Homo sapiens: one gene and its partners. The protein of the gene in region 5 purifies or fractionates together with the protein of the main gene of each other region. This does not show direct contact. Each region holds a gene or a part of one and is shown on either strand. Other genes may lie near its edges.

Evidence for each region.
Region 1: the proteins of HNRNPR (region 5) and PABPC1 fractionate together in Homo sapiens (co-fractionation; 3 studies listed by BioGRID). This does not show direct contact.
Region 2: the proteins of HNRNPR (region 5) and DHX9 fractionate together in Homo sapiens (co-fractionation; 3 studies listed by BioGRID and IntAct, with this or other methods). This does not show direct contact.
Region 3: the proteins of HNRNPR (region 5) and SF3A1 fractionate together in Homo sapiens (co-fractionation; 2 studies listed by BioGRID). This does not show direct contact.
Region 4: the proteins of HNRNPR (region 5) and SNRNP70 purify together in Homo sapiens (affinity purification with mass spectrometry; 3 studies listed by BioGRID and IntAct, with this or other methods). This does not show direct contact.
Region 6: the proteins of HNRNPR (region 5) and NCBP1 purify together in Homo sapiens (co-immunoprecipitation; 2 studies listed by BioGRID and IntAct, with this or other methods). This does not show direct contact.
Region 7: the proteins of HNRNPR (region 5) and LARP7 purify together in Homo sapiens (affinity purification with mass spectrometry; 4 studies listed by BioGRID and IntAct, with this or other methods). This does not show direct contact.

The regions. Positions count from the first base shown.
Region 1 is NC_000008.11:100,708,589-100,712,088, forward strand, and holds part of PABPC1 (polyadenylate-binding protein 1), read right to left. Parts: intron 1,144-3,500; coding exon 871-1,143; intron 636-870; coding exon 545-635; intron 1-544. UniProt on the Homo sapiens protein: Binds the poly(A) tail of mRNA, including that of its own transcript, and regulates processes of mRNA metabolism such as pre-mRNA splicing and mRNA stability.
Region 2 is NC_000001.11:182,859,847-182,863,346, reverse strand, and holds part of DHX9 (ATP-dependent RNA helicase A), read right to left. Parts: intron 3,355-3,500; coding exon 3,163-3,354; intron 1-3,162. UniProt on the Homo sapiens protein: Multifunctional ATP-dependent nucleic acid helicase that unwinds DNA and RNA in a 3' to 5' direction and that plays important roles in many processes, such as DNA replication, transcriptional activation, post-transcriptional RNA regulation, mRNA translation and RNA-mediated gene silencing.
Region 3 is NC_000022.11:30,339,895-30,343,394, reverse strand, and holds part of SF3A1 (splicing factor 3A subunit 1), read left to right. Parts: intron 1-515; coding exon 516-590; intron 591-1,044; coding exon 1,045-1,195; intron 1,196-1,509; coding exon 1,510-1,703; intron 1,704-2,582; coding exon 2,583-2,700; intron 2,701-3,013; coding exon 3,014-3,199; intron 3,200-3,500. UniProt on the Homo sapiens protein: Component of the 17S U2 SnRNP complex of the spliceosome, a large ribonucleoprotein complex that removes introns from transcribed pre-mRNAs.
Region 4 is NC_000019.10:49,084,045-49,088,250, reverse strand, and holds the start of SNRNP70 (U1 small nuclear ribonucleoprotein 70 kDa), read right to left. Parts: upstream 2,801-4,206; 5' UTR 2,615-2,800; intron 1,847-2,614; 5' UTR 1,837-1,846; coding exon 1,690-1,836; intron 1-1,689. UniProt on the Homo sapiens protein: Component of the spliceosomal U1 snRNP, which is essential for recognition of the pre-mRNA 5' splice-site and the subsequent assembly of the spliceosome. SNRNP70 binds to the loop I region of U1-snRNA.
Region 5 is NC_000001.11:23,309,785-23,313,284, reverse strand, and holds part of HNRNPR (heterogeneous nuclear ribonucleoprotein R), read left to right. Parts: intron 1-1,962; coding exon 1,963-2,084; intron 2,085-2,218; coding exon 2,219-2,831; 3' UTR 2,832-3,500. UniProt on the Homo sapiens protein: Component of ribonucleosomes, which are complexes of at least 20 other different heterogeneous nuclear ribonucleoproteins (hnRNP). hnRNP play an important role in processing of precursor mRNA in the nucleus.
Region 6 is NC_000009.12:97,657,821-97,661,320, reverse strand, and holds part of NCBP1 (nuclear cap-binding protein subunit 1), read right to left. Parts: intron 2,682-3,500; coding exon 2,578-2,681; intron 376-2,577; coding exon 253-375; intron 1-252. UniProt on the Homo sapiens protein: Component of the cap-binding complex (CBC), which binds cotranscriptionally to the 5'-cap of pre-mRNAs and is involved in various processes such as pre-mRNA splicing, translation regulation, nonsense-mediated mRNA decay, RNA-mediated gene silencing (RNAi) by microRNAs (miRNAs) and mRNA export.
Region 7 is NC_000004.12:112,650,643-112,654,142, reverse strand, and holds part of LARP7 (la-related protein 7), read right to left. Parts: intron 1,067-3,500; coding exon 907-1,066; intron 76-906; coding exon 1-75. UniProt on the Homo sapiens protein: RNA-binding protein that specifically binds distinct small nuclear RNA (snRNAs) and regulates their processing and function.

The DNA of each region.
Region 1 (3,500 bases), on a different chromosome or scaffold from region 5:
AAATTGGCTGGGTGCCATGGCTCACGCCTGTACTCTCAACACTTTAGGAGGCTGAGGTGGGCAGATGACCTGAGATCAGGAGCTCAAGACAACCCTGGCCAACGTGGTCAAACCCCATCTCTACTAATAATGCGTAAGTTAGCTGGGCGTGGTGGCGGGCACCTGTAATCCCAGCTACTCCAGAGGCTGAGGCAGGGAGAAATCGCTTGAACCTGGGAGGTGGAGGTTGCAGTGAGCCGAAACTGAGCCACTGCACTCGAGCCTGGGGCAACAGAGCGAGACTCTGTCTCGAAAATAAATAAATAAATAAATAAATAAAAAATGAAGAGCTGTACCTATTCCCAAAACTTTTATAAAGGGAAATCAAACCACTGTAGACATTACTATCTTAGCACTGCTTTTAAATGCTATAAAAATGAACATCCATAACCACAAATTATGTGAAATGCAATAGTTAACCTAACATTGACATAGAAGAGCTGATTTACCCAATGTGTTATTTTTAACTCAATCCCCAACCTTAATTAAAAGAAAAAAGACTTACGATGAGGTCTGGCACCCTGAGCAGTCCAGCGAGGACTTGGTCTTAGTTGAGCAATTTGGCTAGGAGGATAGTATGCAGCACGGTTCTGAGTCTGCAGGGAAAAAAAGCACATGAGTTTATCAGTTGAAGAAAAAAGCAAATAATGCAATAAATTATATGTACTTTTTCAAAACATTTACCAGGACTTCACACTCAAGCATTTTTTCCTACTCAATCATAATTCCCCTTTCTTAATGTTTCACATTTGCGGGGCGAGGGGCACAAAAAACACTAGAAATGACCAAATACGAAAACCTTCATGGTTCTGGTTGCCTTCTAAAACCTACCTGTGGGATAGCTGCCATGAAGTAACCTGAAGGAGGTGCTGGCTGGTAGGGGTTGATTACAGGGTTGGGAACAGCTCGTACACTTGCCATTCTCTGCATATACTGGTTAGTGAGGTGAGCCTGGCGCTCTTCTTTGCGCTGAGCTAAAGCTACATACAATGGCTTTGTGGCCACAATTCTACCGTTCATTTCTGTAACTGCTTTAGTGGCTTCTTCTGGGGAGGAGAAACATACAAAACCAAACCCTTTGCTGCGACCACCCTCCATCATAACCTATTAAAAAAAAGAAAAAAAAAGTTAACGTAATGGTAGAATGAGGAGCAAAAAAAGAGCGTTACAATTTAGACAATTATAAATCACTGAATCAAATAACTAAACCCTGTTAATGCTTAATCATCTTGTATTTACCCATTGAGTTCACAATTTTTCCTTAATACCCAATTATTAAGGGCAAACTACACATATGCATTACCCTAGCCAGGTCAGAGAACTGACAGAAGTGAAGGCTGCACAGAAACTTTTAAAGATTTTAGATACTGAATTTGATTGGATTTTCAATATTGAAATTTAATTATCTAAATAAATACATCCCAGGCCTACTAAATTGACTTTTGGGCACCACTGGAAGCATTTCCCAATTAAATTTTGACTATTCTAACAATTCAAGCTGACAAGATGCTTCACTATGCCTTTGAGAAAAAAGTAGTTGAATCTTACAATACCCACATCTTAAAATAAAAGTTTTTACATTCAAGAGCAGAGGATCCATAAATATTACGGTATAAAGAACACTCAAGAGGAAGGTTCTTCTAAAATTGATTGCAAAGACCTTTTAAATGAGCAATGAAGACTTGCAAAGAACCACTCGCTAGGCCAGCAATATATATAAGCATGCTATAAAACTACATTAACAGTATGCGAGTGGCATAGGAACAAACGGTAATAAAACAGAGGCCAGAAATATACCCAAGCAATTATGGGAATTCACTGTGCTAAAGTTAACATTTTAAAGTACTGGGGAAAAAGGACTTTGGGCTACTCAATACATGACACACTGGGACAAATGAAAAAATGTAGAACTCTTAATTCACATTACATTGAAAAATCTTAAATGCCAGGTAGATTCTGAATCTGAACATAGAATGTAGAAATAGAGAGAAAACCTTTCTAAGATGACACACACACAAAGTGAGGTCTATAAAGTGGAAAATTCGAAGAAAATATTTCCAATATAAAACAAATGTTTGGCCGGGCGCGGTGGCTCACGCCTGTAATCCTAGCACTTTGGGAGGCCAAGGCGGGTGGATCACCTGAAGTCAGGAGTTCGAGACCAGCCTGGCCAACGTGGCGAAACCCCGTCTTTACTAAAAATACAAAAATTAGCCGGGCATGGTGGCAGGTGCATATAATCCCAGCTACTCGGGAAGCTGAGACAGGAAAACTGCTTGAACCCAGGGGGTGGAAGTTGCAGTGAACTGAGATCACACCACTTCACTCCATCTCAAAAAAATAAAACAAATGTTCCCTTAATCAATAAAAAGACAGACAACCAGCCAGGCACGGTGGCTCACGCCTGTAATCCCAACACTTTAGGAGGTCACCTGAGGTCAGGAGTTGGAAGACCAGCTTGGCCAACATGGTGAAACCCCATCTCTACTAAAAATACCAAAAATTAGCTGGGCGTAGTGGCACATGCCTGTAATCCCAGCTACCCAGGAGGCTGAGGCAGGAGAATCGCTTGAACCCGGGAGGCGGAGGCTGCAGTGAGCTGAGATTGCACCACCGCACTCCAGCCCAGGCGAGAGTGAGACTCGTCTTTAAAAAAGACAAAAAAAAAACACCTCATAAGTTTAAGAATTTGTGTTGCACTGCATTAAAAGCATTCTTGGGCCGCATGTGGCCTGCAAGCAGCGGGTTGGACAAGCTTGGCTTAAGCCCAGGAAAGGCTGAGGCTGCAGTGAGCTGTGATTGTGGCATGCCCCTGCACTCCAACCTGGGCAACATAATGAGATCCTGTCTCAAGAAACAGAAAAACATGCATGCTTCATACATTCAAAATATGCTGATGCACAACACTCAATTTAAACAATATCCAGGGAACACACTGAAGACAAAAACATTCAGGAATAAATTCTATCGTACTCCAATACTCTTACATAAAAAGCATAATCTGAAACACAAGACAACCATGGCACTTCCATCTTACTTGTATTCAACCACCTTTCCCCTAACATTTCCTCACTCTCACAGAAGCTTCCTCGGACTTGCCAGGAAAAGCTGACTAGAAAGATCAGCCACAGCGTCATTCCAGTTCAGTTGAGTTGTAATTTTTTTCTATGCACTCTTCCCCAACCCCAGCAAAATTATGTATGCACAAAACCTTGCATATAGGGGGACTCTTGGCCCACGGATGCTAGACAAAAACATCTAGAAGAGAACTTCTTAAATCAAGATTTCAGAATTTGTACTAGAATACTACTGCTTTGTTTCTTAATCTCTGATTTCAAATAAAAGAAAATATGATCTCTATTCTTACTGCTAGGGGGCAGGGGAGGGAACTGGGGCTTGACTACCCAGAATGAATTGTAGAAATGAATAAACAGATCAGAACTATAGTAACAATTATAAGT
Region 2 (3,500 bases), about 160 Mb from region 5:
CTGCATTCTAGTAGATTAAAAACACAAGTTCAAAAAGGTTATTTTGCCTAAGGACACATAAATGACTTAAGACTTCAAATTTCCTTTACTCCCAATATAATCCTTTCTCCAATTATTTTACTTTTTATTATTTTAACTATGTTACACTTGGATTACTAAATATGTTAAAAATAAAACAATAACCGACAAAAGTGAGACTAGTTAGAAAGTACCAGTGATGAAAGCAAAGGATAATATTTTTCCAACAGAAAGCTGGAAGAATAGTTCCAACTGTCCTCCAGATATGTGCTTTTAATTTTCATTGCATACATCTGCTTATCTCATTTTCTCTTTAGAATTTTACTACTCTTGCCTGGAGTCCAGCCATAGTAGTAGGTAATTTCAAGTGCTAACCTCTTCCCCACACTTCTGTCTGCTTTAACTGAAGTAGCTCTAATAATATGTACTAAGCAGTCACTGAAATTACTATGTACCAGGTACTGGGTAACTAACACTTTCTATACCATAAGAGGTTGGAGATCTCTCCCAAACTGTTATTTTGTAGTATTCTAGAATCCATACCTTTAATGTACACCTCTTGCCATTTACTCAGAACTACAGCAATTTCTTCCATCTTTCAAAACTGAAGTTCTAAAAGGTCCCAACTTTGCTTTTTCACATCTAAGCGTTATATACACAGTAACATGACTAAGCTGCCACAAAATGTCAAGATTCCTAATGCACTAGATACTACAAAATGTATCAGGCTCCACTATCTCTATCTTCTAAGGTTCTGAATTTATTTTATACAAAGAACCGTTCTTATCCTGAAATGATGGTACTATGGGGTAAGTACAGGATTGATAAAATTACATTAATATGCTTGATTTACATCCTACAATTACAATTCATCTCTTTCAAATAACTTTAAAGGTAGAAGACAACTATTTCCTACTTAAAATTTTCTGCATACAGCCCACAGGTTTTAAGTGGCTTGAGTATGGATAGACCGAAGGATAAAATTCAGTGAGTTTGGTTGAGAATTTACACTAAGGCTGATGTCATGGTTTGAGCTACTCATTCTGTTATACGCCAGTCCATAACTCTAAACTTGTGCTCTGTGAACTGAGATAATACACTTAAAATCAGGAACATAAAAAAACTTTCTAATACTTAACTGATGACTTCATGTGGTTTCCTATAGATGGCTACAAGTGCAAGATAATGGAAAAATGATTCAACAGTGGTAGTACTACAAAAATAACTAATGCTATCTCAGACTGTGCCAAAAGAAGTACAGTATATTAAAAACAAAAATAATAAAAAACTGTATTCTGTAATAACCAATCAGCATGCTCAGGCCTACTTTTCATATTACAGGTAGGTGCTGATGAATTTGAGTGTGTTTAAATCTTAGACTTACTGTACCTTCATGGCTGAACTATAAATGTTTAGTTGAGACTTTCAAACTAAGTACATACTAGGACACAATATAGGTTTTTAAAATTTTGAAGACTTGTTACAGGTAAGAGGTATGAGACTGATTTTGGGACAAACGCTAGGACAAAAACATGCAAGCCACAGAATGTAGATGCAATATGAGTTATAAGTAATTCACCCCAAATCAGAAGACACAGGTTTGCTAATACATTTCCATGCCACTGAACATTTTAAAAGACAGTGAGACAAAGCACTTCTCACTTGGGCAGGAATTTTTACTCTATTTATGACATGCAGACAACTTGAGACTCCTGTCTTCACAGCTCGCTTGTTAAATTCTGCTTCTTTCTGCTATATGCCACAACTGCTTTTGAGATTAGAAATGGATAGTGGTAGAAGGGAGAGGAAGGGAAGAGAAGAGCAGAGCAGAGCTGAGCTCAAGGCTTCTCTTCTGTAAAATTGCACTCTTGAACAATGTTCTTCCTGAAAGATGAGGTAAGAATTAAGAGTAAGAATATTTTATTGGAGTATGATGACATCTGGGGCTGCAGCCTTCACTGTAAGTCAAAAAATCCATAGCCAGTTTTAGGGGTGAGTCGGAAAATCAAAGAAAATTTTGTGAACAAGCTAGGAATCCTTTCCCAGAAAAATGTCAATTTATCATATTTTTTCAAGCCTAAGGTATCATCAGCCTTAGGATGCAACATGATTCCTTCACAGCAATTTTTTTTTTCAGGAGAAAACCCAATTCTCACATAAAATATACAATTATACTAATTATACAATTATACAAATATACTAATTATAAAAATGTATCTCAATTTCAGAAATGTTAAAAAGTTTCAGATATATGCTTTATACATGCAAATGTAAATGAACATGCACACATTTCAAAGTTTGTAACTCTCCTCTGAAAACTGATTATGTTTCCCAGGTTAAGCAACATTAACCCATCGGGGAAAAAATAATTTCTAAGTCAAGATGTAAGCCTACCTCAGAGGTAGTACCTGGCTATTTGCAATGCTCTCCCACAAAGTGCCAGAAGTACAGGGTAGAGCCAACGGAACTGTTTAACCTGAGAGCACTTAGAAGAGCTAATCAGTTCTTCCCTAAGTACTGGGACAAACATGCAGGCGCTGCTCATTGCTGGTAAGGTAATACAGTGTTAGTTAAAAGGAAGAATCCTAAAAGGCGGATTGCTTGGTTTTTTAATCCTAGTTCTACCACTTTCTGTGTTAACCTTGGGCATTTTACCTTCTTTATGCCTTAATTTACTGAAAGAGAAATACTATGTGAAATAGTACTTACATCTTAGGGTCATTATGAACTTCGATTGAGTTTTTTCTAAAAAGCTACTGCTTAGAATAGAACATGGCATACAGTGAAAGTTAACCATTACCTGTCTGACTGGTTTTTACTCAATATCAAGGTGGTTAGATAGAGATGACCAAGATTTGGATGAACTTTAGGACAAAGAATTCTTAATCTCGACAGTCTGATTCTAGGCCCAGAGACTCTTTAGCCCAGATAAAAAGAATCCCTCACATAGTCCAGTTTAGCTTATTAGTGTAGCATACTAGAGATTAGAAAAAGACTACGTTGTTTTTATGTTTTCTTTTTTTAAATTTAATTTCAAGGGCACAATGCTCTCTCAATCTTAAATAATTACAAAAATTAGTTAATCAAAGAAAGAATCAGAAATAGTCTGCTCTCTAGGTATTTCATGGTTGGTTTACCACTTACCTGAGTTACTACGATGTTACACTCTGCTGCTCGGTCATTCTGGATAAAGTCATCTAGAATGAACTGGGGAACCTGTGTGGTTTTCCCACATCCAGTAGCCCCTCTAATAATGACAACTGAATTTTGGCTGATTGCTTCCAGAATCTCACTTTCAAATTTCTTCACAGGCAGTAACTCTCTCTCCTGCAAGATCTGCATTAGAAAAGTCACACTTCAGTCAAATGTCTACCAACACATTAGAAGCAACTGTCTTGATCCTTTAAAAAACTTCCATCTCTATAGACTGGGCGCGGTGGCTCACGCCTGTAATCCCAGCACTTTGGGAGGCTGAGGATCAT
Region 3 (3,500 bases), on a different chromosome or scaffold from region 5:
CCTGTCTTCATGGAGTTTCTAGTCTAGTGAGGAGGAGTCAAGTGCATTGTCAGTGTCTGTTACATGGTGCTAAATACTACAGAGAGAAAGCAGGGAGCAGAAATAGAGGGAGGTGGGGCAAGTACGCTGCGGTTCTGAATAGGATAGTCAGGGGGGACCTGCGTAGTGTTTTTGAAAGGATGAGAGCAGGTCAGTGTCATGAAAGCAGCCGTCTCATACTGACCGTGTTCTGGGTAATCGGCTAGTGCTTTGCATGCTTTCCTGCTAATCCTCGAAGCCACCTTTTTAAGTTCATGGTGCCAACTTTGAGTGGTGGTGCCATTATTTTGGAGAAGGAAATCAAGTTACTGAGGTTAAGTAACTTGCCCTAAGTCCCACAGCCAAGTGGAGCTGGGATTGGGACACAGAATCCCATGCTTCCTCATCTCCTGTGCTTTATCACAGGCCCAGGAAGGCTGCCTCTTTGTACTGCGTTGTAAAGCACTGACAGTTGCTTTAACTCTTCTGTATTTCAGATCTTGATTCCACCCAAAGGTTTATTTTCAAAGCTCAAGAAAGAGGCTGAAAACCCCCGAGAAGTTTTGGATCAGGTAAACTGAATAGCATTTCTTGCAACCAGTTACTGGTGGTTGGTTCTGTTTTATGTCTGAAAACAGTCTCTGAGGCAGGACCTTGTTATGTTCCAGTCATGGGAATGGTGGGAGAAAAGGCTTTGTTGGCTACAAAGGCCAAAGAAACCTGGAGTCCGGATGCTTCCCAACATACCACAACTTTCTGCTTTGCTCTCAGCCTCAATATATCTCCCTCTTTTCCACTCTAGCTAGAAGACAGAAGGCCAGCTCCCAAGCAGATCAGAGGGTGGAATTTTCATTCTGTCCCAACTCTGCACCTGGGTGGAACCAGGTGCAAATGCCATAGTTTGGAACCATACTTCCATTCTGTTCCGAAGGAGGCGCTGACTTTGATGAAAGCCCTGGAGGTGGTAGCCTCATCAGGAGCAGACCCTGCTTCAGCGTAGCACCAAGCTGTTTCCCATCTCTGCAGGTGTGTTACCGAGTGGAATGGGCCAAATTCCAGGAACGTGAGAGGAAGAAGGAAGAAGAGGAGAAGGAGAAGGAGCGGGTGGCCTATGCTCAGATCGACTGGCATGATTTTGTGGTGGTGGAAACAGTGGACTTCCAACCCAATGAGCAAGGTAGGTCTGTGAGGAGTGACTCCAGATGGGGAGCCAGGAACTCAGACTTCCCGGGAAACCTGGTGCAGGTGTTCCCAGAGAGCAGTAGAATCTCTCAGAGGGCTTTATCAGTGCTGTCTCCTCCCTGCTCCCAAAAGACTTCAGTTCTACCACTTTGCCCAACTTAGATTCAATACGTACTTGCCAGACCCTAGATGGGCCTCTGGAGATAGCTGGAGAGAAAACAGACATGGCCCCAGCCCTTGGGGAGCTCAGACAGGGCAAATAGGTGGGTCTTTGATAAGGAATACCTTTGCCTCTGGCTCACCCTCTAGGGAACTTCCCTCCCCCCACCACGCCAGAGGAGCTGGGGGCCCGAATCCTCATTCAGGAGCGCTATGAAAAGTTTGGGGAGAGTGAGGAAGTTGAGATGGAGGTCGAGTCTGATGAGGAGGATGACAAACAGGAGAAGGCGGAGGAGCCTCCTTCCCAGCTGGACCAGGACACCCAAGTACAAGATATGGATGAGGTAAGCTGCTGGGCAGGCCTGCAGGATGACCTTTTCCCCTGAAGCCCCAGGAGGTCGAAGTGCTCTCCACCAGTCAGATCCAGCTCCCCTGTGAGCCTTGAAAGGAGGCGTGGGTCCTGAACAAGGCCATACAGCTGCCCAAGTCCAGGCAGCACAGAGCCTCTTTCCAGCTCCGGCAACAAAGATTCATTCATAGGCAAGGATCTAAAAGCTGTGCTGACCTGTTCTGTGGCCGCCTCCCTGGCCCGGACAGCCTGCTCTCACTGCCTCGTGCCAGCCCTCAGGGAACTCACTGCATTACCCTGTTCTGTTTTGAGCTCTCAGCTGGGCTCCAAGCTCCCAGAGCTTTTCTAAATGTAGCCCACGCTTCCTTTCAGGCATCCCTACCCCCTTCAAGCCAGGCCCTCTAAGCAGGCATGGAGTCTCCAGAACCAGACTGTTCTCCCCCACTCGGAAATAATTTGTGCACAGCCTGAGAAGAAAGGGCCCCTGTCTGTGGGAAATGACTTTTTCTCTCCCTCCCAGCATTGCTGTGTGAGCAGCTACCATTGATTGGCGACTCGCCGCCCCCACCCCTCGCCCCCTTGGCACTGTCCCCCCCCGGCATGTTAAGTGCCCTTGGCCTCTTGGGACTGCCTGGTGCCAGCTGCTGGAAATGCCTGGGAGGAGTGCTAGGACCGTGGCCTCAGCACTCCCATTCATGCTGTGAGGAAGCAGCTTGGCCTGCTGCCGGCTGGCCTCAGCTGCCCTGGGAGGCTTAGCACATGGACGCTGGCTGGCAGAGGCCAAGGCTCCTTGCCACCCAGAGACCTGCCAGGCTCAGCTACAGGGAGGTGGCCTCAGCCCCTCTCTGAGTCCTGCCATTGCTTTGCTTTTCAGGGTTCAGATGATGAAGAAGAAGGGCAGAAAGTGCCCCCACCCCCAGAGACACCCATGCCTCCACCTCTGCCCCCAACTCCAGACCAAGTCATTGTCCGCAAGGATTATGATCCCAAAGGTAGGGAGGGCCTGCTTCCCAACCCTCGGGCTGCCCAGGAAGTCCTGTGTGCCCTCATGTGTTCCTCACACCCGTCTTTCTAGGAGGGCTTGAGGTGCAGCTTATTGTAAAAGCATTGCAAGCCCGTCTGTTACAGGTTTCATGGTGGGAACAGGGCCCAGTCATCTCTGGTGCCCTAGTGCCTTTCACAGTGCCAGGTACAAGAGTGGCACTGAATAGATGCCTTGATGAATGATGCACGCATGAAATACCACCCTCTTAACTCAGGTGGCTGCCCACCAGTGTTCTTACTGAAACATCTGTTTCCTTTTAGCCTCCAAGCCCTTGCCTCCAGCCCCTGCTCCAGATGAGTATCTTGTGTCCCCCATTACTGGGGAGAAGATCCCCGCCAGCAAAATGCAGGAACACATGCGCATTGGACTTCTTGACCCTCGCTGGCTGGAGCAGCGGGATCGCTCCATCCGTGAGAAGCAGAGCGATGATGAGGTGTACGCACCAGGTGAGGTGGGGGTTCCAGGAGAGCCCATGGTAGTCTCCGAATTACAGCCATCTTCTTCTAAGCAAACATAGAAAGCAACAATTGAGGTCAACAAAAGCTTTTGAGGAGAGTTGCACTCTATGATATTGCAAGAGAACTCCCCACTTTCCAGAAGAACTCCCCATAGAAATTCCCCAAAGGCAGACACTGAAGGAGATGCCATGTGCCTGTTGACATCCCAGAGCAAGCTCTGGCTTTAGCTGGAAGGGCTTCCTGTGGCTGTTTAGAAGGAGAGCATTGATGGCTGGAGTACCATGAGCTC
Region 4 (4,206 bases), on a different chromosome or scaffold from region 5:
AGCCTAGGCAACAGAGCGAGACTCCAAGTCAAAAAAAAAAAAAAAAAAAAAGTACCTGGCTCCCAGGCATGGTGGCTCACACCTGTAATCCCAGCACTCTGGGAGGCCAAGGGGGGTGGATCACCTGAGGTTAGGGGTTCGAAACCAGCCTGGCCTACATGGTGAAACCCCATCTCTACTAAAAATACAAAATTAGCCAGGCGTGGTGGTGCATGCCTGTAATCCCAGCTACTTGAGAGGCTGAGGCAGGAGAACTGCTTGAACCGGAGGCTGCAGTTGGCTAAAATCACGCCACTGCACTCCAGCCTGGGCAACAGAGCAAAACTGTCTCATAAATAAATAAATGGTAACTGGCACATGACCTGCATCATCAAAGGGCACCTACCACCCGCCTGTGCCCATTAAGTTAATTGGCCAGTAATATCTCTCAAGTGCGGGTTCACCAAGGGTGGCAAATCCCACTGAAGACATACCTTTCTGTTATCTACGAAATTCTGCTCTGCAACTCCCTCGCCTCCAGCTGCCCTTACCTACCCAATGCTAGAACGTTCTTCTTGTAACTTCCGACTGTGTGCCAGCTTTTCTCAGGTGTGCTCTGATGCACCTAAGAGATGACCCTTGTCATCCCATTTCACAAATAAAAACACAGAGGTCCAGGAGCCTAAGTCATTCATTCCTATTTATCCCAAAGGTGCAGAGCTAAGATCCCCATCTGCAGTTTTAAGCCCTCCAATACTCAATACTGGGTGCTAAGCCTTTATGAACATCATCTTATTAACAATAAAAGTAGTAAACAGAGTAACAAAGGCTGACATGTGCTGACTGCTTGGTGCCAAGCCCCCTGACATACAGTTTGCCATTTAATTCTCCACCAACATTATAAGGGTGCTACCACTATCCCCTTGCTAAAGATAAAGAAACCAATGCATTAAGAGGATACAACATTTGCCCAAAGTCAGAGCTGATAAATGGTGTGGGTTAGGCATGAATCCTCAACCACTACTCACTGAATTTTCACAAAAATTCTACAAAAGGTGTACTATCAACCCCACTTTTTTTTTTTTTTTTTTTTTGAGACAGTCTTGTTCTGTTGCTCAGGATGGAGTGCAGTGGCGCGATCTCGGCTCATTGCAACCTCCGCCTCCTGGGTTCAAGTGATTCCCGTGCCTCAGCCTCCCAAGTAGCTGGAATTACAGGCACCATGTCCGGCTAATTTTTGTTATTTTTAGCAGAGACGTGGTTTCACCATGTTGGCCAGGCTGGTCTTCAACTCCTCACCTCAAGTGATCCGCCTGCCTCGGTCTCCCAAAGTACTGGGATTACAGGCGTGAGCCACCGTACCGGGCCACAACCCCACTTAAAAAAAAAATTTTTTTTTTGAGAGACGAAGTCCTGCTCTGTCACCCAGGCCGGAGTATAGTGGCACAATCACAAAGCACTCCAGCCTCCGACTCCTGGGCTCAAGCAATCCTCCCACCTCAGCCTCCTGAGTAGCTGAGACTACAGACGCACTCGACCACACCCGACACCCGGCTCCAACCCCATTTAAAACAGAGAAACTGAGGATCACAAAGGTTAAGCCCCTCGCTTAAATCACGCAGCTGGCAAAATGGCCAGAAGCTGGACTCGCAAATCCAACCCGTTGCTCCCCAGAACCCAAACCATTCCTGGCCTGCTCAGTGAACTCACCTCAAACTCTCGAATGTACGGCGCAATGCCACAATAAGGTTGATTGTGGTGTTTTTCATGTGGCAGTTTCTCCAGGGGTGGCAGGTATGGAATAGGGTCACGGGGGGCAAAGAGGGCCAGAAGGTTGGGCGGCAGGAACTGGGTCATCTTGCCAAGTCTGAGAGCAGAAGCAGGACAGCCTTAGGTTAGATCGGGTCTGCACAGAGAAAGCCCCTGTTACTCCTTGACTCTCAAAATAAGAAAGACAGGAGAAAAGTCTCGGAATTAAAACAGGCTCTGTAAGGGCAGAGAACAGTCCTGTGTTGCGGAGAAAAGGGTACGTCTTGGTGGGGGTGGAGGTGAAAGGCCGGTAAAGAAAACAAAAATAACGGCTGGAAAAGGGTTCCTGAAGAGTGAAGTCTCAGAGTCCTCTGACACGAGCTGTGGGGCGGAGAGGTTCCCTGGGAATTTCTGGGGAAATCAAGGACCCGAGGAGGGAGGCCCAGAGCAGCTGTGGCTGCTCGTCCCGTGCCGTGGAGGGCAAATTACGAGATGCAGTTTGCAGGGTCCTGGGGATCGGAAGTTTCCAAGCAAAGAAAGAGAAACATAAGGAGCGAAGCCCCAAAACCAAGTGCTTGTGGGTAACAGACCTGGACCCCGCAAAAAGCGAAAGGAATTATGGGTAAGGGTCCAGGACAACATAGACAAACGAAAAAGAAAAAAGGCCACACACCGCAAGGGCCTGTGGGTAGGGAACCACGAGGGCGCTGTGGGAAGCGGGCGTGGGTGCCCAGAGATTTCGGGGTCCGGGAAAGGGATGCAGAAGGGACCTGTGGCGGGGACGCGGGAAAGGGGCCTGGCCGCGGGGAAGAGGACCGGGCCCACCGCTGGGGCTTCTGGGTAGCGGCCCCGCACCCCGTCGGGCCACTCAGTCACACTCACTCACCGCGTAGCGCCCTCCTCGCTCTGGCGTCTGTCCGGAGGCTCGCGGCGGCTGCGGCAGCCCCTCAGCAACAACAACTCCTGCTTCGGCTTCCACTCCGGGGGCGTCCACGTCCGTCTGATTCCGTCGCCCGCTAAGCGAGCGCACCAGGCCGCTGCTCAGCCACCCGCGCGGCCTCCGATAGCGACTGGAGCAGGGGGTGGGTCCCGGCCGCAAATCCCTCCGCCGTCCTCACTGCGCACGCGCCGTGCGGTGCCAACAACAACCCACACACTAGGACCCGGCGCTGCCGCGGGCACAGCGCACGCGCGAGGTCACTACCCCGCCTTTGGGCACCTTGAGTACCTCAGCCGCGGGGGGCTGGCTTCTGCACTGCGCGCGCGCGCTTGCCCCAAGCCGCCCCTCCACCTCCCGCTTTCCGCGCCGAACCGCCTATGTCCGCGAGACTCTCCCTGATGCTCCGCCCCTTTCCGATCACACTTCCCGGATCTTTCGCGCATGCGTTTTGCGTAGAGAACTGTAACGTACCTCTCCGCCGCCTAGCAAAGAGTCCCTAGGTGAACAGCCTGATTGCGTTGATGTCTAATCTATTCAATCAATAACTATTCATCGAGCATCTCGTGTGTGCTAGGCACTGTCTGGGCTTTGGGGGTACAGCACGTGATTAAAGCAAAGTCTTCTGCTGCTAGGGCTTACATTGTACTGGGAGAGACAATAAAAGCATTTAACTGAATAAAGATAATTTGAGGCCAGGCGCGGTGGATCACGCCTGTAATCCCAGAACTTTTGGGAGGCTGAGGCGGGCAGATCACCTGAGGTCAGGAGTGTGAGACCAACCTGACCAACATGGTGAAAGCCCGTCTCTACTAAAAATACAAAAATTAGCCGGGCGTGGCCGTGCGCGCCTGTAAGCCCGGTTACTCTGGAGGCTGAGGCGGGAGAATCGCTTGAACTCGGGAGGCGGAGGTTGCAGTGAGCCGAGGTCGTGCCATTGCACTCCAGCCTGGGCGACAGAGCGACTCCGTCTCAAAAGTAAATAAATAAATAAATAATAAAAGATAATTTGAGATAGTGGCCAGCATAATGAAGAACGATGGAGCAGAATAAAGGGATGGGAAGTGAGAGCGAGGCTGTTTTAGAAAGGGTGATAATGGAAGGCCCCTCTGAAGAGGTAACATTTGAATAAAGGACAGATAGAAGCGAGATCTGGGGTGGGGCCGGGGGGGCGGTGTTTAACAGTAAGTGCAAAGGTCCTGAACTGAGACCAGATGGCAGGAATCTCAGGTTGTTGGCCATGAGATCAGAGAGCTGGCACTTGTTATTTAGAGCCCTGTTCTTAAGTATTGTATCTTAAGTTTTGTGGATGGATTCAATAGCCTGTTTAATAACTACAGAAATTATTGCAAATTAAAATGACTAATTTTATGTTTCAAGAAAAAGGCCGAGTGCAGTGCTCACGCCTGTAATCCCAGCACTTTGGGAGGCCAAGGCGGGCAGATCACCTGAGGTCAATAGTTCGAGACCAGACTGATCAACATGGAGAAACCCCGTCTCTACTAAAAATACAAAATTAGCTGGGCATGGTGGCACATGCC
Region 5 (3,500 bases):
TACAAGGTATAAAAATTAGCTGCTGTAAACACTGAATAGGTAATGAATGCATTATAACTACTTAGTTGACCTCAGTTTGTGTACCTATGAAGGAAACTGAGTGGTGTACATGACTCATACAGTATACCATGTTTAATTGAGTAGATAGATTTTGAGGGTATGATTAGTTTTACCTTTATTTAATCATTTTAGAGTTAAAATAGCATTCACTATGTTTTACTGATTTCGGTAATTGTTAGAGATATCACTTGTGTATAATAGTTGATTTAGTCTTTGATGATAATGAAAAGTTTGAAGAAAGTATTTTCATATGGTATCTGGAACACAAAACCTGCTTTCTATCGACAATGGTTTAGGACTATCTTTAATGGGTGAAATTTTCAGTTTCTTTTTTTTATTCATCTCTCCTTCCTTGGGGGGGTGGGAGCAAGACAAAACACTACTAAAATCTTATTTATGTTATTAGGAAGATAGATCCAGAATGCTTAGTGACACAGGCATGGTTCTTTTTCTGCATGTTTGGTCGGTGGGATACTGCCATCTCTAATCTGAGCATTTTTTGGTTTTGTTTTTTGCCCAGGCTACTGCTTTTAAAACAGGCTTTATAGAATCCCTGATTGGTTTATAATTAATTGGCTTGCTCATTGATGGTAGCTAATTAATGAGGCAGTATTGTTCATAAAATTCATAACTTGTCCAAGATCACAAACTCAGTAATAATCTGGCTTTGAAGTATGGAGTCTTATCTGTTATGCTGTTATACTCTTATCCGTTCATTTGTGGCTTCTGAAATTTCACTGGTATAGAATGCAGATAACTAATAATTTTATGCTGTCTAAATATTCCTCCTGACTCGACTGGTTTCAAATAACTGGTTGTCCTGATTGAAAATATTTATAGGATGGTTTGCCAAAGAAGCCTATGAAATTATAAAATATCTAGTCCAGGAACTGGGAGTCACCAGGATGGTCAGGGCAGAGGGTAGATGTTTCATTTTTTAATTTATGCCAGGAAGCTTTTGTAAACTTGTTTAGTTGCTTTAACTGAAGCAACGCAAAGCTGAGGTGGTAAAAGGGAAAATTGCAGTCTTGAGGACTAGTTTCGTTTTTGTCTAGATACTTATAAATCACTGATAGCTCCAATAGAACATTTTTTTATGTGTGCCCAGAGTGGGGAAAGGTATAGGGAAACAAAAAATAAAATATCATGAGGAGGTGACATTTTGTTACTGAGTACCTGAACCTTTTGATGTATGGCAGAGGTTGTTAGGTGGAACAACGTGAACAAAGGGCTAGAACATGGAATGTTTGATTACTGCTTTCTACATAATTGCTTGAGTCTTCATTAGTCCAGGCCTTTTCTGGCTCTGTACTTTTAACTGTTCAAGCAAAGTACATTTTGGGTTAAGCATTGTGAGGGAAACCTAGGCTTTTTTGTGTTAGTATCTTCTTGAATTTTACAGATAATCTCACTCAGTAACCTCATTTGTGCTTCAAATCCTTGAAATTGTCGTATAAGAACAGTGGAAGACCTGTATGTTGTATGCTACATGTTTATTTTAAAATTCTAATCCTGAGAAGTTAATCTTTGTCTGGCTCGTATTAATACTGGCATTTTTCCCCGGTATGGATTTGCTTCTTTGGTATGGCTTATCTTTTAAGGAGTTATTTGGAATTAAGGAGCAGCAATAGGTGGCAGCCCTTTTACCTTTTAAAATATAATATCAGGTGGTCGGTTTTGTTCTAAATGTAATTTATGTATAAAAAGATAAGGTCAAGGGAAACGTATTTTCTTTGTGTGTTTGTGTTTAACTTTCTGGCTAGATTCACCTTTTGCCATTTAAAATAATTGTGAAGTAAATTGTTAAGTGTATTAAATTACACAAGTATAATAGCTTACATACTATATAAAACAAAATACAGTTTTATATCGTTGTAAAATAATTTTTCTAATTTTTTATAGGCTATGGATGAAATGAATGGCAAAGAAATAGAAGGGGAAGAAATTGAAATAGTCTTAGCCAAGCCACCAGACAAGAAAAGGAAAGAGCGCCAAGCTGCTAGACAGGCCTCCAGAAGCACTGCGTGAGTCTACATTTTAGTAGATATATCTTTGGACAAGGAATAACGTGATAATGGAGATCAGATTAATAAAACAAAATCAGAGTCTTGAAGCAAACTGATTTGTTTTTTCTTTTCTCCCTTCTCTACTTTGCTAGGTATGAAGATTATTACTACCACCCTCCTCCTCGCATGCCACCTCCAATTAGAGGTCGGGGTCGTGGTGGGGGGAGAGGTGGATATGGCTACCCTCCAGATTACTACGGCTATGAAGATTACTATGATGATTACTATGGTTATGATTATCACGACTATCGTGGAGGCTATGAAGATCCCTACTACGGCTATGATGATGGCTATGCAGTAAGAGGAAGAGGAGGAGGAAGGGGAGGGCGAGGTGCTCCACCACCACCAAGGGGGAGGGGAGCACCACCTCCAAGAGGTAGAGCTGGCTATTCACAGAGGGGGGCACCTTTGGGACCACCAAGAGGCTCTAGGGGTGGCAGAGGGGGTCCTGCTCAACAGCAGAGAGGCCGTGGTTCCCGTGGATCTCGGGGCAATCGTGGGGGCAATGTAGGAGGCAAGAGAAAGGCAGATGGGTACAACCAGCCTGATTCCAAGCGTCGTCAGACCAACAACCAACAGAACTGGGGTTCCCAACCCATCGCTCAGCAGCCGCTTCAGCAAGGTGGTGACTATTCTGGTAACTATGGTTACAATAATGACAACCAGGAATTTTATCAGGATACTTATGGGCAACAGTGGAAGTAGACAAGTAAGGGCTTGAAAATGATACTGGCAAGATACGATTGGCTCTAGATCTACATTCTTCAAAAAAAAAAATTGGCTTAACTGTTTCATCTTTAAGTAGCATTTTGCTGCCATTTGTATTGGGCTGAAGAAATCACTATTGTGTATATACTCAAGTCTTTTTATTTTTCCTCTTTTCATAAATGCTCTTGGACATTATTGGGCTTGCAGAGTTCCCTTATTCTGGGGATTACAATGCTTTTATCGTTTCAGGCTTCATTTTAGCTTCAAAACAAGCTGGGCACACTGTTAAATCATGATTTTGCAGAACCTTTGGTTTTGGACAGTTTCATTTTTTTGGATTTGGGATAGATTACATAGGAGTATGGAGTATGCTGTAAATAAAAATACAAGCTAGTGCTTTGTCTTAGTAGTTTTAAGAAATTAAAGCAAACAAATTTAAGTTTTCTTGTATTGAAAATAACCTATGATTGTATGTTTTGCATTCCTAGAAGTAGGTTAACTGTGTTTTTAAATTGTTATAACTTCACACCTTTTTGAAATCTGCCCTACAAAATTTGTTTGGCTTAAACGTCAAAAGCCGTGACAATTTGTTCTTTGATGTGATTGTATTTCCAATTTCTTGTTCATGTAAGATTTCAATAAAACTAAAAAATCTATTCAAAACAT
Region 6 (3,500 bases), on a different chromosome or scaffold from region 5:
AATCCTTGAATGGTAACATATTTCACTTTGTATTTACGATGAAGTTTATATTCTTAAGTAAGCTATATCACAGAAATGTTAGGATCTCTTTTTATATAAGGGGAAAATACCTGGGGTGCTAAGAACAACAGTCTGAACAGGTCAAACAGATATAGATATATTGCTTTAAGAGCATCATGTTGCCAGAGTTATGTTTATGCTTTAAGTTGGCCTATACATAGTTCCACTTAAGAAATACTGAATTCCACTTACCGTCGTCATCATCCTGGTTAGGATTTGGTACATCTTTCAGAATGCTGAAGATTTCATCATTGGTTGCCTTACTTTTAAAGGCAACAGCTAAACAGAGGGCAACAGAATGTCCAGGAAGAGAATCTAAACACAGAATTGGGGGTAAGGGGAATGACAGATCAGGTTTCAAGACTATTCTAATGAACAGTTAAATAACTGAGAAAAATTTTTTTTAAATTCTTCCTTTCAAAATAGGATGCTCTTTATCCCAAGGTCAATATTTAATCACATATAAATACCGTATGTGAAAGCTTTTTCTAATAGGTTAATGGTTTTTCACCTAAAAAGGGACAATTCTCATTTCAACAATTCATTAAGGACACTTAGCTAAGTAAAATTTAGAGCACAAGGTGCTGATCATCCTCAAGATGAATGGTAAGGAGAAAAGTGGACACAGTTAAACTGTCTTTTAATGCCCTCAACTCTCCTGGGCTCAAAATCCCAGAACCAACGTACTTCTCTTTCATTTTGCCAACACCCACTTCCTCTTTCTTTCCTCGGGACCGTGGAAATGAAGTCTGAGTCTCAACAAGGTAATGGCTGCCAACTTCAGAGAGGTTTTGTTTTTGTACTTTTCTTTTTTGCTGAGTCCACAAGCTTGAATCTACGTAAGTCAGATGCTCACGTGATGGGACTCCTTGTATTTACTATTGGTTGGTATCAGTTGAGTCCTTATTATAAAAATTTGTGCTAATATACACCGTAAGGCATCACCAGAGCAACAAGAAATCTGCTTTTAATGTAAGGTAGACAAAGAGGTAACAAAAAAGGCAATCCTGTTATAGAGTATGAGTTACTGGAATGAATAAAGTAAATTACAACAGTCATGTGAGGACAGTCATATTACACCTGCTGTGAGCTTTTTCTCTAAAAAAAAGAAGGCGAAGAAAAACAGAATCCCCTGTCACCAGTCTACATTCTAGCTGGGGAACCAAGATATTCACATTAGACACAGCCAGGAAGCAATACAAAACTGGCTTGCTAACGGTTAAAAAATATTTACAGCTATTGAGCTTGGGCTAGAATCTAGAAGGAGAAAAGGAAGTGGAGCTAGAAAGGGCTTTCCAGACTGGGGTAATGGCAAAGTCAAGAACAGGGAGTATGGAAAAAATAAAAAAGTACATGGACCTGGCAGAAATAGAGGTCCATGTGGGGAGAAGTGAAAAATAACAAAGTAGGAACAATGGTTATGAAGGCCTTGAATGTTAGGCGGAGTTATTCCTATGGGGCAAAAAGAAAGCTTAATCTTCAACAAAAGCCTGAGCTTTCTGATAGCAAAGACTACACCTTATCATTCTCGGAACCAGTACAGGACAAAACTCAAAACCCAGCACTTCTAAGTACTGCATAAACCTTTGATCTGCCAAAAAGCACAGTGGCTAACAGCATGGCCACTCAGTTAGTGCACCTACGCCTGAATTTGGGCTCCACCACTCAAAAGCAATCTCATTCTAGCTTGACCTCTTGGAAGTCATTTCCTCATTGTAGTTTTGATAATCATATCTATTCTTCAGAGTTGACATAATGAAATAGGAAATGTACCAGGACCGACACAGTTCATTTCAAGGAAAACAGGTACAGTCAGAGACAGAGGTGGAGAAACAGGCACACAGTATGAAAAGCAAAGAACAGCAGAAAGTTGTGAGATACAAAGAACCTCTACACAACACAAAATGGAAGGATCATGGAGGGGCTGTGTTAAGTGTAATCTGCAAAGAACAAGTTGGAAAAACTCCACACCTAACTCTACCAGTGATCAACAATGTATAATACTTTACCTTCATTAAGTGTAAATACTATGCAAAGGGCAAAATGGCACATCAAATTACACTCCCTGATTTATGGTGCAATTTCAGAGATTATGTGACCAAAAGGTAAGAAAATCATAATTAAGAATTTACTTTTAAAGGCATACTGCCACAAATATGTGCATCTATGTTCTCAATACCACACCTGAACAAGATAATGAATTCAAGTAACCTCCATCACCATGACAAATACACGTTTTCAGTTTAGTAAGTTCTAACTATAAATTCATCTTGCTATACTTAACACATTCAAAAGAGAAAAAATGATAAGCCAGTAGTAATTAATTTTATCACAACCAAATCCTCAAAATGATGACAGGGCAAATAAAACAGTGGCTAATGATAGACCACCTTTCAAATACAGGAAATATAAACCCCAAGAAAAGAAAAAGTTCAATTTCTCCACTTTAAACAACTAACTTCAGATATACTTGAACTGGTACCTTTTAAAGACAGAGGGATTAGTTTCATTACTTACTGCTACTTTCATCTCCATACTTGTAAATGCAGGTTGGGTTTGCAGGACACAGAGCTGAGAAGGTAGGAGGAACAATATCTAATATACGCTGATGGTAAGACAACCTACAATACAAATAACAGCCTCAGAAAATATCTTTTATCAGTCCCATTCTTCGGTAACACCCGACTTACCTGGAAAGTCATGATCTCCAACAACTTGAACTCAGCTGACAACCAAGAAGTGAAAGGGAAAAAAAAATCCTTTGAGTTTTTGTCTAAGCCAGCACACCAAATCTCAGGCATACTGCAAAACTCACTGGCTTGCACTGAGGTGCGGGTGAGTGAGCTCATGAGCCTGGTGGCCAAGTATGTGGGGTGATGATGGGGCATGGTGGAGATGACTGCACGCTTTGGAAACTGGCTATATTCTATCAAATAAATAAATATTGAGGATAATGGAAGCCAAGTTTGTTACTGCCTGAGAAGGTGTTTACAAATCATGGTAGAGAAGAAGTGTAGAAATAAGGTATTGAGTTGGAATTGGAGGCATATATACACACAGGTGGACATAAAAACAGTTATGGATGGATGGATGTGTGTCCACCAAGAGGCTTAGAACCAATGACACCCCAATGGCAATGAGCATATCAAGTGCCCAGATCTTGGCTCCTAAATACCATATTCCATTACTACTTTACTAGAAACTAGGGCTCCATGAATAAATAGATGATTCCAGTGATAGGGCAAGAAAACGCAAGATGATCCTAAATATGTTGTTCTAGAAAATAAGGGAATGCTCAATGAATGGCTGGGGACGTTAAAAAAAAAAAAAAAAATATATATATATATATATATAGAGAGAGAGAGAGAGAGAGAGCTTACCGGGGCTCCTCATGTACATACCAGGGACAATTTGGGCATCAAAATAAATAATCCTCATAG
Region 7 (3,500 bases), on a different chromosome or scaffold from region 5:
TCTTTTCCCGAGGCTGATTAAGTTTTGCCTGTCTATCAACCAAAATCTTCTGCCAATACCTTTGTTCGTGATCACCTTAAAAACAAACAAAGACTCTGATGGATGAAAAGAAGAACATATCTGAAAAACCATATTCAAGGCATTACATTCTCAATAATAGTAACTAGGACAGTTTTTGATTATATTTAATGCTACTTTACACATATTACAGAATAGAAAAAAAATAGTTAGTTTTGCCAGGTGCGGTGGCTCAAACCTCTAATCCCAGCACTTTGGGAGGGCGAGGAGGGAGGATCACCAGAGGTCAGCCTGGCCAACAAGGCAAAGCCCCTTCTCTACTAAAAATATAAAAATTGCCTGGTGCAGTGGCTCATGTCTGTAATCCCAGCACTTTGGGGGGCCAAGGCAGGCAGATCACCTGAGGTCCGGGGTTCGAGACAAGACCAGCCTGACCAACATGGAGAAACCCCGTCTCTATTAAAAATGCAAAATAGCGGGGCATGGTGGCACATGCCTGTAATCCCAGCTAACCTGGGAGGCTGAGGCAGGAGAATCACTTCAACCCGGGAGGCAGAGGTTGCAGTGAGCCGAGATCGCACCACAGCACTCCAGCCTGGGCAACAAGAGCGAAACTCTGTCTCAAAAAATAAAATAAAAATATAAAAATTAGCCGGGCGTGGTAACACACGCCTGTAATCCCAGCTACTCTGGAGGCTGAGGCAGGAGAATTGCTTGAAACTGGGAGGTGGAGGATGCGGTGAGCTGAGATCACACCACTGTACTCCAGCCTGAGCGACAGAGCAAGACCAAAAAAAAAAAACTAGTTTCATTAGCCAAACTCAGAAAATATATTACTCACAATAAGGATGATAACAAAAAAAAAAGGAAACGTCTATGAAGTTTTACCAGAAAGGATCTCGAGTTTCCAGCAGTGTTTCTTGTTAATTTCTGTATAGGCATTTATTACTGCTTGAGCATCCTCAGGAGTTTTAAATCTAGCATGGCATTCTGTATCCCCTTCTAGCAAATCAACATAAAGAACTTCTGAGATTGCTGCCAAAGTATCCTGCATTAGAGTTAAGTAGAAAGACAAATAAAATTTAAAAAGTTTCACAATAATTCTAAAACTATTCCAATGGTTATGCCAGAATATATTATGTAAATAAAGCATTTTGCAGTCTAATGAGGAGCAAATATCCTGTATCAAATATTTCCTGTAAAGCATGTTCTTAAAAATAGATTTGAATAATATCAACTCTAGTAATTTATTTTCATTTATTTTCTTGAAATCACATCCTTAAAATCTGCACTAGAATGGGAATATTCTATAAGGACAACAGATTTATAGAGCAGAAAGCAGAAATAGTGTCCCCCAACCCCCAAATCAGGAAGCGTTCACATCTGGGAGTAGTATAAGGAATAAAATTAAAAAAAAAAAAAAGGATTAAGGGAGGTTTGTTTTTACTCACCTGTAGAAAATCACTATGACTTTAAAATATGTGTACAAATCATTCCACTTTTAATAACAACTCATGAAAAACAGTTTAACCAAACCTAAAATACTAGATTTCCACATTGTTCAAGAGCTCTTACTTTCTGAAAAAAATACCTAAGTAACCTCTTCTAAACAAGTTGTGGTCACCCAGCAAGGAAAAGTTTTACCTACACTGCCTGCTGTGAGGGCAAATTAACCAGATTCCTGCATTCTTAATCAACTTTTTTTTTCACAGCAGGTTTTACAGAGTATACAATGCATTTATGCAGGAATGTTACACTAATTCCTAATTCATCAACTTCCATTCATAAAGCTAAAGAAGTAACTGGAGATTGCTAAATGGGGGGGGGGGGGAAATCTTATTTATCTTGCCTCCCTTTCGTTTTGACCTAAAATTTCAGACATAACTAATTTACATTACTTTCAGATGTTGAATTTTTAGATGTTTGAATTACGGAAAGAACTGAGCAATACCTGGAAGTATTATTTCATCATAGAATAAGAAAAGTTTATCAGTTAATAATAAAAAATATATAATAAAATCTGTGAGTTTCTAGAAGCCAGGGACTAGATCTTAACTCATCCCAACACTCAGCAACTATCACAAAACAGGCATTTAGTAACTGTTTGCCAAATTAAAAAAAAAAAAACTGCAGAGACTTACACTTGCTAGTCCTTCCCACTTCTTTACCTAGTTAATTAGTACCAAATTTAGATATAAAGCAAGTAAAAAACTCAGTATTGTTGAAATTTGAATGCATTCAGTAGTAGTAATGAGTTTTATAACTGACTTTTGAGCATATTCAATTACTACAACTCAAAAGATATATACTAAATATCCATTATAATGTCAGGCTAATCTCTTGATTTAAAACCCTTAGAATTTAAAACCCATAGAATGACAAATTAGCCTGGTAATCACATGGGCAAGTCACAGACAGTTGTAACCAACACAGCTCAGTTTTTGTTTCAGCAAAATGTAAGTAACTACTAACTGGATTAATGCAGGGATTGATTTTATGATTTTGATGATCATAAATGATGAATTTGTAATTGATAAAGTTACCCTTTAAATAACAGAAGTTATTTAATGAGTTGATTAGAAATAACTCTGAGCAATTTTTGTATTAAATGTTTTGCAATCTGATTAATCAGAGCAGTATTTACATCCCTCAATTTTCAGCTGTCTCCTGAAATGCAAGCTGGTAATAGCAATTTGGATTTGGCCAAATCCTTCACCAACATTGCAAAGAGGATCAAAATTTGTTTCTTAGTGACAGCTATAGGATTGTAGGACAGTATTTCAGATAAGGAGGGCTTACAGATAAACAAACCACCACCTCAATGGTATTCAAGTTAAAACCTGTGACTGATGAGTCTACGTAAAACCAAAACAACATACTAAGTGATGATGAATGTCAGTATAAGAAAATACTTAAAATATGTGGTATGTTACAGAGCATTTCACACTTTTTAAAAAGAAAAGGATTCACTTAAATGGGTGACAGGCAGGGTAAGGGTAAATAAGATATGGTACTCTCACCTAAAAGTATATAATTTCCCTAATAGAAAGTATTGCTACCAATGTGGTATAAAAGGCTACAGAAGATAGACTGTATAAAGCGAAAAAATTATAAACCTGTATGTACAGCAATTTGTAGCGTAAATTATATAGAAGTATGGGTTTTTTGGCACATGCGTGAAAAATTTTAAGAGGTTTTCAAAAATATTTTACTTTTCTATAATTAAAATTTTAAAGATAATCAGCACATAGGTAATACAAAAAAAATCAGTGCCAATAAAAATAAGCAAAAGTTACAATTTTCCTATAGAGAAGGATGTTTAAACTGTGCTTACATATAGATTTAGTGAGGAATTTCAGCCTCTAGATTTTGCTTCAAAATTAAACCTAAGAGTTACCATGGAATTAAAACTGTACAGTAGTTTACCATAGGGAAACAAATTCTAACTTGATTTGTTTTATCTTCCATATTCAAAACATTTT